Linked DNA regions of Homo sapiens: region 2 is reported to be linked to region 1. The links are microRNA targets in miRTarBase. Many come from high-throughput screens and were not tested one by one. Region 1 holds a microRNA gene; the other region holds the end of a gene's coding sequence.

Region 1 (4,269 bases):
CGTTGACATTGGCCCTGACTTGGCCCACGCTGCAGCTGCACTGGCCTGATCTGAGGGTTTCTTCTCCCTGGAGGCTCAGAAAGGTCTCTTACTCAGCATCTCTGTCTGCAAAAACATTTGTTTCAGGCACAAAAGGACCATCCCCATGTTTGTCCCAGAATCTACGTCTAAACTGCAGAAGTTTACAAGGTGAGTTTTGTACCCATAACCCCAGCCCCTCCTGATCTACTGGATGAATGGATGTCCCATTCTACCCCTCAGTTTGTGCCTGGTCGCCTCCTCAGATCTGCAAGCTGCTCCACCCACTGAGGACAAATAGAAACAGGTCCCCTGGGAGTGCTGAGTCACGGGGCTCCCTTCAGCCCTGTTCCAGCAGCAGAAGGCCGGGCGATTTTACCCTGTGCCCTGTGAAAAATCTTTGTGTCTGAGGGAGCAGAGGAAAAACTCTTGTCAGATGGGAAAAATGCTCATGACATAATGTGACATTAAAAGGTGGGAAACAAGAGGATATAGCAGTATGAGTCAGACACCTTGGAACAGTAATCATGATAAATGCCTTTACATGTGGGAGTCTCTGGCCGGAGCTGACATTTGCGCAGAGGCTTAGTGTGGAGGGAAGAGCCGGGGAAGAACATCAGGCACAGGGAACAGTGCCTGCCAGGCTGAGGAGAGCGTGAGCTTAGCATGCTAGAGAAGCCAGGACGGTGGTGTGGCCAGGACGGCAGTGTGGCCAGTAAGTGGTAAGCCAGGCAGAATGAGGGAGACATCAGGGAGGCAGGCAGGGGCCAGGACACAAGGGCCTGCAGGGAGGGCCCAGGGGATGCCTGGATGCAGCCCCAGCATGAAGGCCTCTTACCCCTGCTCACATCCAAGTGGGAGCTTAGAGGGCCAGCTGGGCCCTGGCCTTCTGACTCGAGGACCATTAGCGCAGTTGGGCAGCAAGCCTCTGCCGCCCACCGGCAGATTAGTGAGGCACAAGTGGAACATGGAGGACTCCCTGGGTTCCAGGGCAGCAGCCGGCAAGCAGCCCCTGCGAGCCTGGCCAGTACTGGGCGTGAGACCAGGCCAGAGCCCTGCTGGGTGGAGGGACAGCATCGCGCCCAGGGCCGAGAATGCTTCACTGAGCTCTGAGAGCCGTGGAGGGGAGGAAGGGCAGGGTCTCCGCTGGCCTCAGCCTGAGAATTTGTGTGCCTACTGCCCCTAGGAGTCCTTCTGGGAGGCCACCCTGTAGCAAAGGACTTCTTTCCCAGATGACCTGGGCCAGTATCACCTGGAGGTGACAATCCCCATGCCACAGGCTGTCAGGGAGGCAGCGAGGCAGTGCCCATCAGTGGGTTGGGAAAGCCTAAGAGACTGGGGACCCACACAGCCATCCAGGCTGGGTTATTCACCCTGTTCCACCGCCCACAGCTCCAAGGAGGACTTTGGGCCTCCAGGGGACAGCTCGCTGAGGAAAGGGTTTCACAGCCCCTGTGGAGGGGCTCGCAACTGGGCAAGGCAGTATGTGCTTGGATTACAAAAACTGGAGAAAGTTCTGATTAGTGAAGGCAGTTTGATTGGCAGAATCTTCCCAGATATGGAGGCTCCTTGCTCAGGCTGACACCTCGGTCATCCCCACCCCTCTCCCAGCCTCTCCCCACATCCTCCAGCGCTGGCCTAGGGCCTGCCCCAAACACTCTTGGCCACTGTATTCGTTTCCCACGGTGGCTGCTGCAACAAAACACACAAATGTGATAGCTGAAAACAGCAGAAATGTATGCTGAAGGCCAGAGTTCAAAATCCAGGTCACTGGGCCCAGAAAAGGCACCACAGGGCTGTGCTCCCTCCCAAGGCTCTAGGGGAGACTCTGTTTATTGCCCTTTCAGTTTCTGGTGGCCCCAGCCTTCCTTGGCTTGTGGCCTCATCACTCGAGTCCTGGCCTTTAGGGTCCACCTGGATAGTCGCCTCAAGATCCTTAGCCTAATCATATCTGTGCAAAGTGCACGTGACCCTGTTTCTCAATAAGGTCACGTGCACGGTTTCCCAGGACTAGGATCTGCTATCTTTGAGGGGCCGTCATTCAGCCTGCTGCCACCCCTCCAGTCTAGTCTTCACATAGCAAGAAAAACGGTGTTCCTAAAACACAACTGGGGCTGCACCCCTCCCCTGCTAGAACCTGTCTCTGTCAGAATGAACTTCAACCAGAATGCTGCCAGGCCGGTGGTCGGGCCCTGCCTACCTCATGGCCTCTGCCCACTTGCTTCCCATCTACCTCAGTTCCTGCAGTCTGAGGGGTCCTTCCTTGCCTCAGGTCCTTGCCTGGAATGCTCTCCCAGAACAGCCTGTCTTGTCTCCCCAACCCCAGCCAGCTAAGCAGACCACCCGGGTGGACCCCAGGAAAGAAATTCAGTGGGAACGGGAGCTCCATGTGAGCTCCGGGATGGGATCTGCTGGGCACAGTGGGGATGCTCCCAGGCCCCAGTCCTCATACATAGCCTCTTGTGAGGTGGGTGCTGTGAGAGTCTTGCTCTCCCAAAGGAGAAACTGAGGCGCAGGGGTTGTGGCTGCCCATCCCTTCCCCTTGGGGAGCGCCTGCTGGCTTTCACTCTCTGGCTCCCTCCTTGGGGTTGGGGGCTGGTGGGCAGTGCTCCCTGGCTGTGGTCTCCACAGGCCAACTCTGCGGCAGCTGAGAGCCCCTCCCTGGCCTGGGCCCCTCTGCAGCCGCCCCAGGTGAGCGCTGGTGCCCACCTCAGAGACGGAGAGGCCGCGGGGAGGGCGGTGCGTGGGCTTTTGGGTCGGCATGGTTGCCAGCGACCCTCGGGGCCGGGTGTGTCCGTGGGGGGACCTTGGGAGCTGTGGTACAGAGGAGGCGCGGCCGCGAGTCCCGGCGGGGCGAAGCCCGCGGCTGCTGGACCCACCCGGCCGGGAATAGTGCTCCTGGTTGTTTCCGGCTCGCGTGGGTGTGTCGGCGGCGGGGCCTGACACCCCCGGCCTCCTGGCCTCCCGCCTGGCCCAACTGGGGTCTGGGGCTGGGGAGGGCGCATGCTCAGCCTGGTGGCTGTGTGCCGCCCCTGGCAGGGCCTGCGGTGGGTGCCAAGATGGGAAGTGACATGTCCTGGACCCCACACTAGTGGGAGGTAAGGCTGAGGAGCCGTTCTGGCCCTTCTGCCCACCCCACAGACTCTCTGGGGTGGGACCCCCTTCCAGGGAGGCTGGAGGGTCACACTGTCCCCTCCCCTCCCCCACCTCAGCTGCTGTCACTTTTCTGGGATTTCTGGGGGTTCAGGTAGCACCCCCACCCCAGAATCTTCCTGAGCTCTCATTCCCAGTGAACCAAACCCATGGAAGCCAGAGATGGAAAAGCCTAACCGGCCAGCGGAGGCAGCGTGGCTGCAGAGCACATGAGGCCTGGCTAGGCTGTGTGACCTCGGCAAGGGACACCCCACGCTGGAGCCCAGCCACTGGGAAGGCTCTGCTTAGGGCCTGACTCCTGGTGGGGGTGGGGTGCGGTTGGAACAAGAGTGCTGGTTTCTGAACCGAGGAGAGCCCACATCCAGTGTCGTCCAAGACCAGGAATGCCCAGGTGGGGCCCTGCTCACCTGTGTTCTTCTGTGTTCCCAGCTGGTTCATGGGGCGGCGGCCCGAGTACACAGACCCCAAGGTGGTGGCTCAGGGTGAAGGCCGGGAAGGTAAAGCTCCCTCCCCTCTCTTACCCCCATCCCCCATACAGGTTACAGCCTGGGAGTGGGTGGGCCCAGGGTTGGGGTGAATGCCGGGGACCTGCCAGGCACATAGGAGCTAGCCCACAAATGTTCCCAGATGAGGGCCTGGTTGGAGCACAGAGGGTTTGTCATGTCTGCCTGTCCCGGCAGCCCCTTTACCTCCCAGTGAGGGGCTTGGGTCAGGCACTGTTGTCCCCATTTTACAGATGAGAACGCTGAGGCTGAGATTCCCAGATCAACCTGGGTCTCTCTCTGCCCCAGCCCAGCCTGGCTGATGCTGCCCTTCTGTCCCCAGTGACCCGTGTCCGTTCTCAGGGCTTTGTCACCCTCCTCTTCAACGTGGTGACCAAGGACATGAGGAAACTGGGCTATGACACTGGGCCTTCTGATACACAGGGTGTGTTGGGGCCCAGCCCACCCCAGAGCTTCCCCCAGTGAAGGCTCCACAGGCTGCACAGTCTCTGATAATGAAGGGCTGCCTTCCCGAAGTCAGCCGCTGCCCATCGGCCTGAGGGGCAGCCTGGTGGCCAGAGCTGGGGGCACACAGAATAGTTTTGTATAATAAAGT
Region 2 (3,000 bases), not on the chromosome of region 1:
CGCCCTACCCGCTGCCCGGCCTGCGTGGCCACGGCTACCACCCGCACGCGCATCCGCACCACCACCACCACCCCGTGAGTCCAGCCGCCGCGGCCGCCGCCGCCGCTGCCGCAGCTGCCGCGGCCGCCAACATGTACTCGTCGGCCGGAGCCGCGCCGCCCGGCTCCTACGACTATTGCCCCAGATAACACGGGCCCTGTCGCGCTCCCGCCCCGGTCCTGCACAGCCCCGAAGTTCGCCGGGCCCGGCCACCCTGCCCCAAGGGCAAGCAAGGAATACGTTCCCCCAGCCCCAGGGGCCACCGCGGCTCTCCCCTTCCCCAGCCTCGAAGCCATGGGGGCCCCCTCGCCACCCCCAGCCCCTTGGGCTATCGAAGTATCCGGTTCCCCAGTCCCTGGAGCCACCGCGGGTCCTTCCCCGGCCCCGAGGGCCAAGGGGGTCCCCGCCCGCCAGTGCCAAAGCGCCCGGTCGGAGGCGGAAGGAAGTGATATTTATTGTTCTCCCCGAGACCGCGTCGCCCGCGGCCCGGCCGGCAGTTGCAGTGTAGACAGCCCGAGAGCCCCGCCTGCAGGCGGTGTAGATACATGTAGATACTGTAGATACTGTAGATACCGCCCCGGCGCCGACTTGATAAACGGTTTCGCCTCTTTTGGAAGCCGCCTGCGTGTCCATTTATTTGTGCCCAGTTAGATCGCGTTGGGAATCTTCGGGACAGCGAGCCCGGGGTAGCTCAGGGCCCTCAGGGCCTCCCCAGCCCCAATCCCTGCCGACTGTAGGTCGGTCCCGGTCCCACAGCGCCCTGTCCGCCACGCCTCCTGCCCTCTGCCCGCCCCATAGGGGCTCCCACTGCCCCTCCCCTCTCCGAGGCCCCTCCTGCCAGGCCTGTGCACTCCCCCCACCTTCCCACCGTCCCGTCTCATCCCAACCTCCCCAGGGCTGGTGGTACCGCCCAGGTGTGCATCCTGCCTTTTTACTTAAATTCCTCCCACCTGCAGTTGTCCCTATTCTGGGACTTGGGCCTGCGCCCTGGCCTGTTTTCGGGACAGATGCTTGTGCTTTTCCATGGAAGCTGGGAAGAAGGGTCATGACAGACACTGCCGGTCGGTGCTGGGAGGGGGAGAAGCCCCTGACCGGGATGGGGTCATGGAAAGACAAAAACAGGCAGCACTGTTCTGCTAGCATTTCCCCTGCCGGCCTAGCCCAGGCCCGCATGTTCCCTCCTTAGTGACTTTATTTGCTGTGAGTGTCCCTACGGAGTGACCTGGCCAGGGGGCACAATGACAGTAGCCATGAGTCATCTTGAGACCTGTGTATGAAGCATTTTTCCCAGGCCAGGTGGCTAAGGGACCTCTCCCCGTTAACTCAACACCAGGGATGGGGCGAGAGGAACTCTTTGATCCCTCCCTTCCTGAGCGCAAGCAGGAAGGGCTGACAGCCGGTCAGCGCCAAGGCTGCTGACTTGGACACAAGATGAACGGGAAGTGCACGTGGCCGAGGCTCTGTCCCCCACCTCCCGTGCCTGTCCCAGTGTGTTTGTGGCAACTGCTGCCTTCTAGGCCACTCGGCTCATCACCCCACGTGGTAGCGGCAGCCTGAGTGCCACCTCTCCGAGGGCACAGCCAGGAGTTTCCAGATGTCCACCCTCGCGGACCTGTTTTTCGTATACATGTTTGCTCTGGCGGCGTGAAGTGAGTGGGGTCTTAGTAATTGAATGGCAGGAACCATTCCCAGAGGCCAGTCTAGGGTGGGAGGGGGTCTCCAGGGGCCATCCAAAGCCTCAAAGGGCATCTAGCACCAGAGAGTGAGGACCTCTGCAGCATCTGCCCAGGCTCCGTGAGCACGGCTTTGGAGATGCATTTGGGGGGACGGCTGTGGATGCCCATTCCCAAGTCCTGATCCCCACCTGCGTGAACTTGGGGCAGCCATTACCCATGTGCCCCACGGTGGGTGGGGCTTTGCACTGCAGAGGGCCTCCCTCTCTTGCTGTCAGAAGGCAGCCATTCCGTACTCCACATCCAGGATGTGCGGAGGGGCTGCCATTCGAGACCTCCGCCTTGGTTTTGTTCAGAGCTAAAGGGAGGAAAAGCCCTCCCCTGAACAAAGAGCAAACACAGTGTTTGTAAATGAGGGTGGGACACACAGCAATGTGCAAGGACCCTGAGTGTGCAGCAAACTGGCCTGTTACCGTGCCCCTCCTGTTGGGATGGCCATGCAAGATGGAGCACCCAGCCGTCCAGCAGGGCCGCCGCTGGCCATCCGGGGCTGTTCGCATTCTTTTTTTTTTTTTTTTTTTTTTTTTGAGACTGAGTCGCGCTCTGTCGCCCAGGCCGGAATGCCGTGGTGCGATCTCGGCTCACTGCAACCTCCGCCTCCTGGGTTCAAGTGATTTCTTTTGCTTCAGCCTCAGAGTAGCTGGGACTACAGGAATGTACCACCATGCCCGGCTAATTTTTGTATTTTTAGTAGAGACGGGGTTTCACCATGTTGGCCAGGCTGGTCTCGAACTCCTGACCTCAGGTGACCCGCCTGCCTTGGTCTTCCAAAATGCTGGGCTTTCAGGCATGAGCCATCACACTCGGCCACACGTCCTAATGAACTAGGATTCATTAAACATTCAGGTCCTCACTGGCCCCATTCCAGGTGCTCCGTGGCTCACAGGCCGCGGGTCACCACACTGCTGCTGTTGCTGCTGAGGGCACTCCCACGCTGGGCAGTGGCCCCCAGAAGTGTGGGTTTCCTCCCCTCCACCTTTGTAGATGAGTTTGTGCATCTGAGAACTTCTTGTAAATGAGAGCTCGCAGGCCGGCGTCTGGGTGGCAGCTTCCGCTGGCTGTGTGTCTGCAAGACTGGCGCACGCCGCTGCTCACCGTCCCTCATGTGCTCAGTCCTCAACCAGTGCCCAGTGATTGCCTGCCCGCTGCGGGGGCTGTCTGGCTGATGCCCCAGCCACTACCGTTCCTGTGGAGGTGACGTTCCCATGGGCAGCTGCCCTAAGGCCTG

Evidence for each region. Region 1 holds the annotated microRNA hsa-miR-1180-3p (UUUCCGGCUCGCGUGGGUGUGU, at 2,924-2,945, shown strand). A microRNA usually pairs through its seed, bases 2 to 8, with sites in the 3' UTR of a target mRNA and lowers its output. Matches are read on the target gene's strand: a 7mer-m8 pairs with bases 2 to 8, a 7mer-A1 pairs with bases 2 to 7 and ends in A, and an 8mer does both.
Region 2: the mRNA of TBX1 is a reported target of hsa-miR-1180-3p. The part of its 3' UTR that is shown has no 7-base or 8-base seed match.

What each region holds. Positions count from the first base shown.
Region 1 is chr17:19,343,189-19,347,457 of GRCh38, reverse strand. MIR1180 (microRNA 1180) reads left to right here and starts at 2,884; the gene lies at 2,884-2,952. It overlaps B9D1 (B9 domain containing 1), which reads left to right. Exons shown (of 7, transcript NM_015681.6): 5 at 127-189; 6 at 3,601-3,668; 7 at 3,997-4,269. The coding sequence ends at 4,139. RefSeq lists an enhancer at 1,568-1,862 and a silencer at 1,568-1,862.
Region 2 is chr22:19,766,680-19,769,679 of GRCh38, forward strand. TBX1 (T-box transcription factor 1) reads left to right here. Exons shown (of 7, transcript NM_001379200.1): 7 at 1-655. The coding sequence ends at 188. Among named protein-coding and RNA genes, the nearest start is that of TBX1, 7.4 kb to the left of the region's middle.